Linked DNA regions of Homo sapiens. The protein of the gene in region 1 interacts with the protein of each later gene in a pairwise test. Each region holds a gene or a part of one and is shown in the gene's direction. Other genes may lie near its edges. The genes, in order: SLAMF6 and SH2D1B.

The links.
Region 2: the proteins of SLAMF6 (region 1) and SH2D1B interact in binary tests that used the Homo sapiens proteins (3 or more experiments, as listed by UniProt).

The regions. Positions count from the first base shown.
Region 1 is NC_000001.11:160,513,005-160,516,824, reverse strand, and holds part of SLAMF6 (SLAM family member 6 isoform 1 precursor), read left to right. Parts: intron 1-3,820. UniProt on the Homo sapiens protein: Self-ligand receptor of the signaling lymphocytic activation molecule (SLAM) family.
Region 2 is NC_000001.11:162,395,027-162,398,846, reverse strand, and holds the end of SH2D1B (SH2 domain-containing protein 1B), read left to right. Parts: intron 1-1,531; coding exon 1,532-1,567; 3' UTR 1,568-3,579; downstream 3,580-3,820. UniProt on the Homo sapiens protein: Cytoplasmic adapter regulating receptors of the signaling lymphocytic activation molecule (SLAM) family such as CD84, SLAMF1, LY9 and CD244. In SLAM signaling seems to cooperate with SH2D1A/SAP.

The DNA.
Region 1 (3,820 bases):
AGTTTCAATTTTCTGCATATGGATAGCCAGTTCTCCCAGCACCAGTTATTAAATAGTGAATCCTTTCCCCATTGCTTGTTTTTGTCACGTTTTTTGAAGATCAGATAGTGGTAGATGTGCAGTCTTATTTATGGGTTCTCTATTCTGTTCCATTGGTCTATGTGTCTGTTTTGTACCAGTACCATGTACCGTGCTGTTTTGGTTATTGCTGCCTTATAGTATTGTTTGAAGTCCAGTAGCATGATGCCTCCAGCTTTGTTCCTTTTGCTTAGGATTGTCTTGGCTATATGAGCCCTTTTTTGGTTCCATATAAATTTTAAAATAGTTTTTTCTAATTTTGTGAAAAATGTCAATGATAGTTTAATGGGAATAGTAGTGAATCTATTAATTACTTCGGGCAGTATGGTCATTTTCATGATGTTGATTCTTCCTATCCATGAGCACAGAATATTTTTCCATTTGTTTGTGTCCTCTCTGGTTTCCTTGAGCAGTGGTTTGTAGTTCTTTTTGAAGAGGTTCCTTCACTTCCTTTGTTAGCTGTATTCCTAAGTATTTTATTCTCTTTGTAACAATTGTGAATGGGAGTTCATTCATGATTTGGTTCTCTGCTTGCCTGTGTGTGTTGTATAAGAATGCTTGTAACTTCTGCATTGATTTTGTTTCCTGAGATCTTGCTGAAGTTGCATGTGAGCTTAAGAAGCTTTTGGGCTGAGATGATGGGGTTTTCTAGATATAGGATCGTGTCATCTGCAAACAAAGATAATTTGACTTCCTCTCTTCCTGTGTGAATATGCTTTATTTCTTTCTCTTGCCTGATTGCCCTGGTCAGAACTTCTAATACTATGCTGAATAGGAGTGGTGAGAGAGGGCATCCTTGTCTTATGCTGGTTTTCACAAGAAATGCTTCCAGTTTTGCCCATTCAGTATAATATTGGTTGTTGGTTTGTCATAAATGTCTCTTATTGTTTTAAGATATGTTCCATCAATACCTGGTTTATTGAGAGTGTTTAACATGAAGGGATGTTGAATTTTATAGAAGGCCTTTTCTGTGTCTATTAAGATAATCTGTGGTTTTTGTCTTTAGATCTGTTTATGAGATGAATTACATTTATTGATTTGCATATGTTGAACCAGCCTTGCATCCCAGGAATAAAGCCAACTCGATCAGGGTGGATAAGCTTTTTGATGTGCCGCTATATTTGGTTTGCCAGTATTTTATTGAGAATTTTTGCATCAGTGTTCATCAGGATATTGGCCTGAAGCTTTCTTTTTTGTTGTATCTCTGCCAGGTTTTGGTATCAGGATGATACTGGCCTCATAAAATGAATTAGGGAAGGGTCCCTCCTTTTCAATTGTTTGGAATAGTTTCAGAAGAAATGGTGCCAGGTCCTCTTTGTACCTCTAGTAGAATTCAGCTGTAAATCCTTCTGGTCCTGGGCTTTTTCTTTTAGACTATTTATTACTGTCTCAATTTCAGAATTTGTTATTGGTCTATTCAGGGATTCAGCTTCCTCCTGGTTCAGTCTTGGGAGGGTGTATGTGTCCAGGAATTTATCCATTTCTTCTAGATTTTCTAGGTTATGTGCATAGAGGTGTTTATAGTATTCTCTGATGATTGTTTTTATTTCTGTGGGGTCAGTAGTGATATCCTCTTTTAACATTTTTTATTGTGTCCATTTGATTCTTCTCTCTTTTCTTCTTTGTTAGTCTAGCTAACTAGCAGTCTATCTATATTATTAGTTTTTCAAAAAACCAGATTCTGGACTCCTTGATTTTTTTGAAGCATTCTTCTTTTATCTATCTCCTTCAGTTCTGCTTTGATCTTGGTTATTTCTTGTCTTCTGCCAGCTTTGGAGTTTGTTTGCTCTTGGTTCTCCAGTTCTTTTAGTTTTAATGTTAGCATTTCAATTTGAGATCTTTCTAGGTTTTTGATGTGGGCATTTAGTGCTCTAAATTTCCCTCTTAACAGCTGCTTTAGCTGCATCCAGAGATTCTGATACATTGTCTCTTTGTTCTCATTGGTTTCAAAGAACTTCTTGCTTTCTGCCTTAATTTCATTATTTAACCAGGAGTCATGCAGGAGCAGGTTGTTCAATTTCTATGTAGCTATGTGATTTTGAGTGAGTTTCTTTGTCTTGAGTTCTAATTTGATTATGCTGTGGTCTGAGAGACTGTTTGTTGTGATTTCAGTTCTTTTGTATTTGATGAGGAGTGTTTTACTTCCAATTATGTGATCAATTTTAGAGTAAGTTCCATGTGGCAATGCATAGAATGAATATTCTGTTGTTGTAGGATGGAGAGTTTTGTAGAGGTCTATCAGGTCCACTTGATCTAGAGCTGAGTTCAAGTCCTGAATATCTTTGTTAATTTTCTGTCTGAATGATCTGCCTAATATTGACAGTGGATGTTAAAGTCTCCCGCTATTATTGTGTGGGAGTCTACATCTCCTTGTACGTCTCTAAGAGCTTATTTTAGGAATCTGCTTTTGTATTGGGTGCATACATATTTAGGATAGTTAGTTCTTCTTGTTGAATTGAACCCTTTACCATGCCTTTCTTTGTCTTTTTTGGTCTTTATTGCTTTAAAGTCTATTTTGTCAGAAACTAGGATTGCAATCCCTGCTTTTTTCTGGTTTCCATTTGCCTGGTAGATTTTCCTCTATCCCTTTATTTTGAACCTATGTGTGTGTTTGCATGTGAGATGAGTCTCTTGAATACAGCACACCAATGGGTCTTCACAATTTACCCAGCTTGCCATTCTGTGTCTTTTAAATGGGGCACTTAGCACATTTATATTTAAAGTTAGTATTGTTATGTGTGAATTTGATCCTGTCATCATGATACTAGCTAGTTATTTTGCAGACTTATTGATGTAGTTGCTTCACAGTTTCATTGGTCTTCATTGTGTACTTCAGTATGTTTTGTAGTGGCTGATAATGGCTTTTCCTTTCCATATTTAGTGCTTCCTTCAGGAGCTCTTGCAAGTCAAGCCTGGTGGTGGATGAATTCCCTCAGCATTTGATTGTCTGAAAAATATTTTATTTCTCCTTTGCTTATGAAGCTTCATTTGGCCAGATATGAGATTCTGGGTTGAAAATTCTTTTCTTTAAGAATGTTGAATATTGACCCCCAATCTCTTCTGGCTTGTAAAGTTTCTGCTGAGAGGCCTGATGTTATTCTGATGGGCTTCCCTTTGTAGGTGACTTGGCCTTTCTCTCTGGCTGCCCTTAACATTTTTTCCTTCATTTTGACCTTGAAGAATCTAATAATTATGTGTCTTGTGGTTGATCCTCTCATGGAGTATCTTACTGGGTTCTTTGTATTTCTTGAGTTTGAATGTTGGCCTGTCTTGCTAGGTTGGGGAAGTCTCCTGGATGATATCGTGAAGTATGTTTTCCAACTTTGTTTCATTCACCTGTCTCTTTCAGGTACCATAATCAGTTGTAGGTTCGGTCTCTTTACATAATCCCATAATTCTCAGAGATTTTGTTTGTTCCTTTTCATTCCTTTTTCTCTAATCTTGTCTGCCTATTTTATTTCAGCAAGATAGTCTTCAATCTCTTAAATTCTTTCCTCCACTTGGTCTATTCGGCTATTGATACTTATGATTGCATTGTGATGTTTTCATGTTGTGTTTTTCAGTTCCATCAAGTCATTTATGTTCCTCTCTAAGCTGGTTATTCTGATGAATAGCTCCTGTAATGTTTTATCCTGATTCTTAGGTTCTTTGCATTGAGTTAGAACATACTCCTTTAGCTCGGCAAAGTTCATTATTACCCACCTTCTGAAGCCTACTTCTGTCAGTTCATCCTTCTCAGCCT
Region 2 (3,820 bases), 1.9 Mb from region 1:
CAGACAAATGCTCTTTTCTGTGACATTATCTCTAAAAAGCTTCATCCTACTAAGAGCAATTTCCATTTTGTTGAGAAGTGCTGTCTTTTAGTCCCTGAGGGCCAAGACAGAGAGCTTGCTGCGTTTGCAGCCAGGATAGCAAGAGTGGTTCCTGGGCAGACAGCTGACTTCAAATTCATTCTGTGACCTTGTGCAGACGATTCAAGTTTGAGAATAAATGGGCAAATGGGCAGATTTTCAAATGAGAAAATCACTCTAGCCCTTCAAGCCCTCCCCAAAGCGTATACTGTTACACTTTGCTCAATATTTGCTAAGCATTCATTTATAAAGTGCTGGGTGTCAAATTATGTCAGATACATTTTTAAAGGCATTAAGCCGTAGTGGAAAATGAGAGATGGTCAGTAAATCTGAGTGCAGAGAATCCCTGCCTAAGCCTCTCAAATTATATCATGAGCAGCTACTCTTCCTTACCCACACTCTTGAAATCTGCTCTCAGTAAAGAATTTACTATCAGTTGCAATGTTGTTTGAATTTAGCTCAGACTTCCAGAAACACTTAGGTCTTAATCCTGTTTTCCCATGTTGGAATGTGTGGTTATATTCTCAGTGAAAGGGATGGCAGTTATCAGTGGCAGGTGATGGGATGAGATCAGATATCCTCCCTAGGAGAGGGACAGAGGACAGAGAGTTCTCTGGGAGCCTGCAATCACTCCATCCCCATTCTACTCTGTCTGCGGCAAAGTCACCCTTTAGGCTGCCATAGCCGGCTTCTCATTTCCCCAGCAAGGCTAAGCATAAAATACAACTCCCTTCCCTACCATTGTGTCCCTGTCCCCCCATCCCCATGAAGGGCAGTGTGTACTCATGGACACAAAAAAATCACTTTCTATAGGTCCAGCTGCAGATGTAGTCCCACAGCTACTTTCCCCCCCAAATTTATAGAATAAAAAGTATACAGTGTGGCAGATCTAGAAACCCAGGAATGTATCTGTGCTGCAGCCCTTAGGCAAACCCAGATGAGTTGCTGGGACTGGTTGGGGTGGTGGTAGCATTTGTCTCAACAATGAGAAAAGAATCATAAATCCCAGGAGGAGAACCCTCAGAAATCTTCCCCAAGACCTGGGCATGAATCTCACTCCATCAGTTTTCCATGCCGGGTCAGTGCTGACACAGCAGGCTCCAAAATTCTCAGCTACTGAAGAGGAAATATTCCCCATCAACCTCTTCCTCCCATTCCCATTGCTTCCTTAGAAGAAGCTTCAGATGTTCTTACTCCAAGGGAGGTGCAGATTTCTTGCTGGTGAATGGAGACACTTGTGCTGGAAGGTCTGAGGCTTGGCTTATAAAGAGATCTCCTATTTTGTTAGGAGGGCTCCCTGTAGTACCCCAGCCTTTAAAGATACAACTTTCAGGTGGCATCAACATGGCTCTGTGCCTGGGGAGGGGTCTTCTTTCCTTTGAGTGGGGTTGTTTGATATGACTTCTGGGTGTGGTCTCATGGCTGGTCTTCTGCTTTTTTTTTCCCTCCAAAGAACAGTAACAGCGATTATGTGGATGTCTTGCCTTGAAGATAAGGCTGCCGGACAAAGCAAGTTGAAGAGATGAGTAACAGTTCTCACTGATGACCCACTTCTGCAGGCATAGGTCCAGAGCACCAAACTCTAGTGGACAATTCAGACTCTCCTGGTTGTGTAACTGAAGATGTTCTGCCCACCAGCACCAGAGGTCACTCTCCACATCCCCGCCTCCCAGACATATACCAGGAGCAATTTCAAAACCCTCTCCAGTTTCACTCTTCTTTCTTGGAATGGGACAGCCTGAACATTTTCCCTTTGACTTGTTAAAGGTACCACCCTACATCATGGTTGACACCCTCCTTTGGACCATGCAGTCAGAGGGGCAGCTTTATACAGAGGAGGGGCACACTTGTCTGTGAGTTTGAAGCCCTGAGTTCCAGTCCTGTGGCTGTGTGACTTTGAACACGTTTCTGCCCATCTCCAGGTCTTAGTTTCTTTGTCTCTGTGGTTGGGTGGGATGATAAACATTGCCCCAGTCTCTCTGTTGAGCCTGCTTGTGTCAGGTGAAGGTGAGGGATCGGGAGTGATGGAGATGCATACAGATCAGCACCTTCTCTGTACCTGCTGGACCCCCATGTGCACCCTTCTCCCTCCAGCCTGGGCTACTCTCCTCCTGGTTCTTTCTAATCTTAAACTTCCTGGTGAGCATTGCCCCAGCCACACTTTCTCCCTGGTTTTGCTTAATTCCACTTATGCATCAGTCATTTCAACAGCATGAATGTGGTTCTGTACAGTGATGTATGTGGAGATTTCTAAAATATTCTATGTGTGATTTCTGTTCCCAACTAGGTTCTAAGTGCCATCAAAGCACGGTTGGGTCTCCCTTGTATCTTCCACAGTGTGTAGAAATTTGTGCTGCCCAGAGCTGTGCCTAGTTCATAGAAACTGACTGGAAGCACATTGCTGAGGGAGGTTTGTTGAATTGGTTTTTAAGGTTTACTGAAATTGATTTGCTGAATTTTTCTGCTAGTTCAAAATGTGAATTAGGACCTGGTCAGTTTGAAATATACCAAATTCTATGCCCTTTCTCTTACCTATCATCAAATTGTAGTAATGTATTTCACCCCACTGGACTTATCTTCAGAGTTTTAAAAGAGAGGAGCTCTCGACTTAGAGGTAATATGAACAGATGAACAGACACTGTGGCTGGAGCCCCAAAGTGTGGAGCATTGTGAGATTTGGGGTCACAGCAATTTATGGCTACTATTCCCTGGGTCTGGTAGGTAGGACAAATGTCCTCTTTTACTTTTCAAAACTGGCTTAGGTATTCATGGACCTTGATTCTTCTATATACATTTTATAATAAATACGTGAAATTGCTTAAAACCTCTTTTTGGAATTTTTAATGAACTTGCAACAAATTTGTAAATAGGAGAGAACTGACGTTCTTGTGATGTTTTCCCATGCATAAACATGCCACATCCATGTTCTTGGGTCATCTTTTTTGCCCTTTCATGGAGTCATAAATTTTCCCAACTGAAGTCTTGTATATTCTGTTAGATTAATTCCTATTTCTAGTTGCTGTAAATGATATCTTATGTTTTATTACATTTCTAATAGGATATGGTGTTGGTGAAATGTTAACCCTCTCATTAGATCTACTAGTTTACCTGTTGATTCTATTGTGTTTTCTATGTAAATGATTTTGTCAGCTATAAATAATAACATTTTATTTTCTCTTTCCTTGCAATACCTATGCTCATTTATTTTTTATGTTTACCCATTGGTTAGGGCCTCCTGTATACATTAAACAGTTCATAGTCATGATAGTGAGTATTCTTACACTGTTCCCAGTATTACAGGGAATGCTTAGAAATTTTCTTTATTTAAACATTATGTTTGTTGTAGCCTTGTTAAAGGCTATTTTATAATTTTTACTAGAAATATTTTGACATTTATTGTGATTTTTTTCTATCTCTAATCTATTGAGATAGTCACATTCCTTTTGTCTTCACTCCATTATAAAGGTAAGTTACCTTAATAAAATTGTTGATATCATTTCATCCTTGCATTGCTTCACTTGATAATATTTTATTATTTTTCATAAACTGTGGAATTTGGTAAGTTAATATTTCATTTAAGATTTTTGCATTAAAACTCATAAACCAAATAGGACTATAATTTACTGAATCATGGTTACACTGTTCATATAAAGCGAAGAAAAGTCTTTTTCCTTTTACCATTTTCTGCAACAACTCTTCAGGTAAAGATTATTTGTTCTGGGCTGGGTGTGGTGGCTCACAC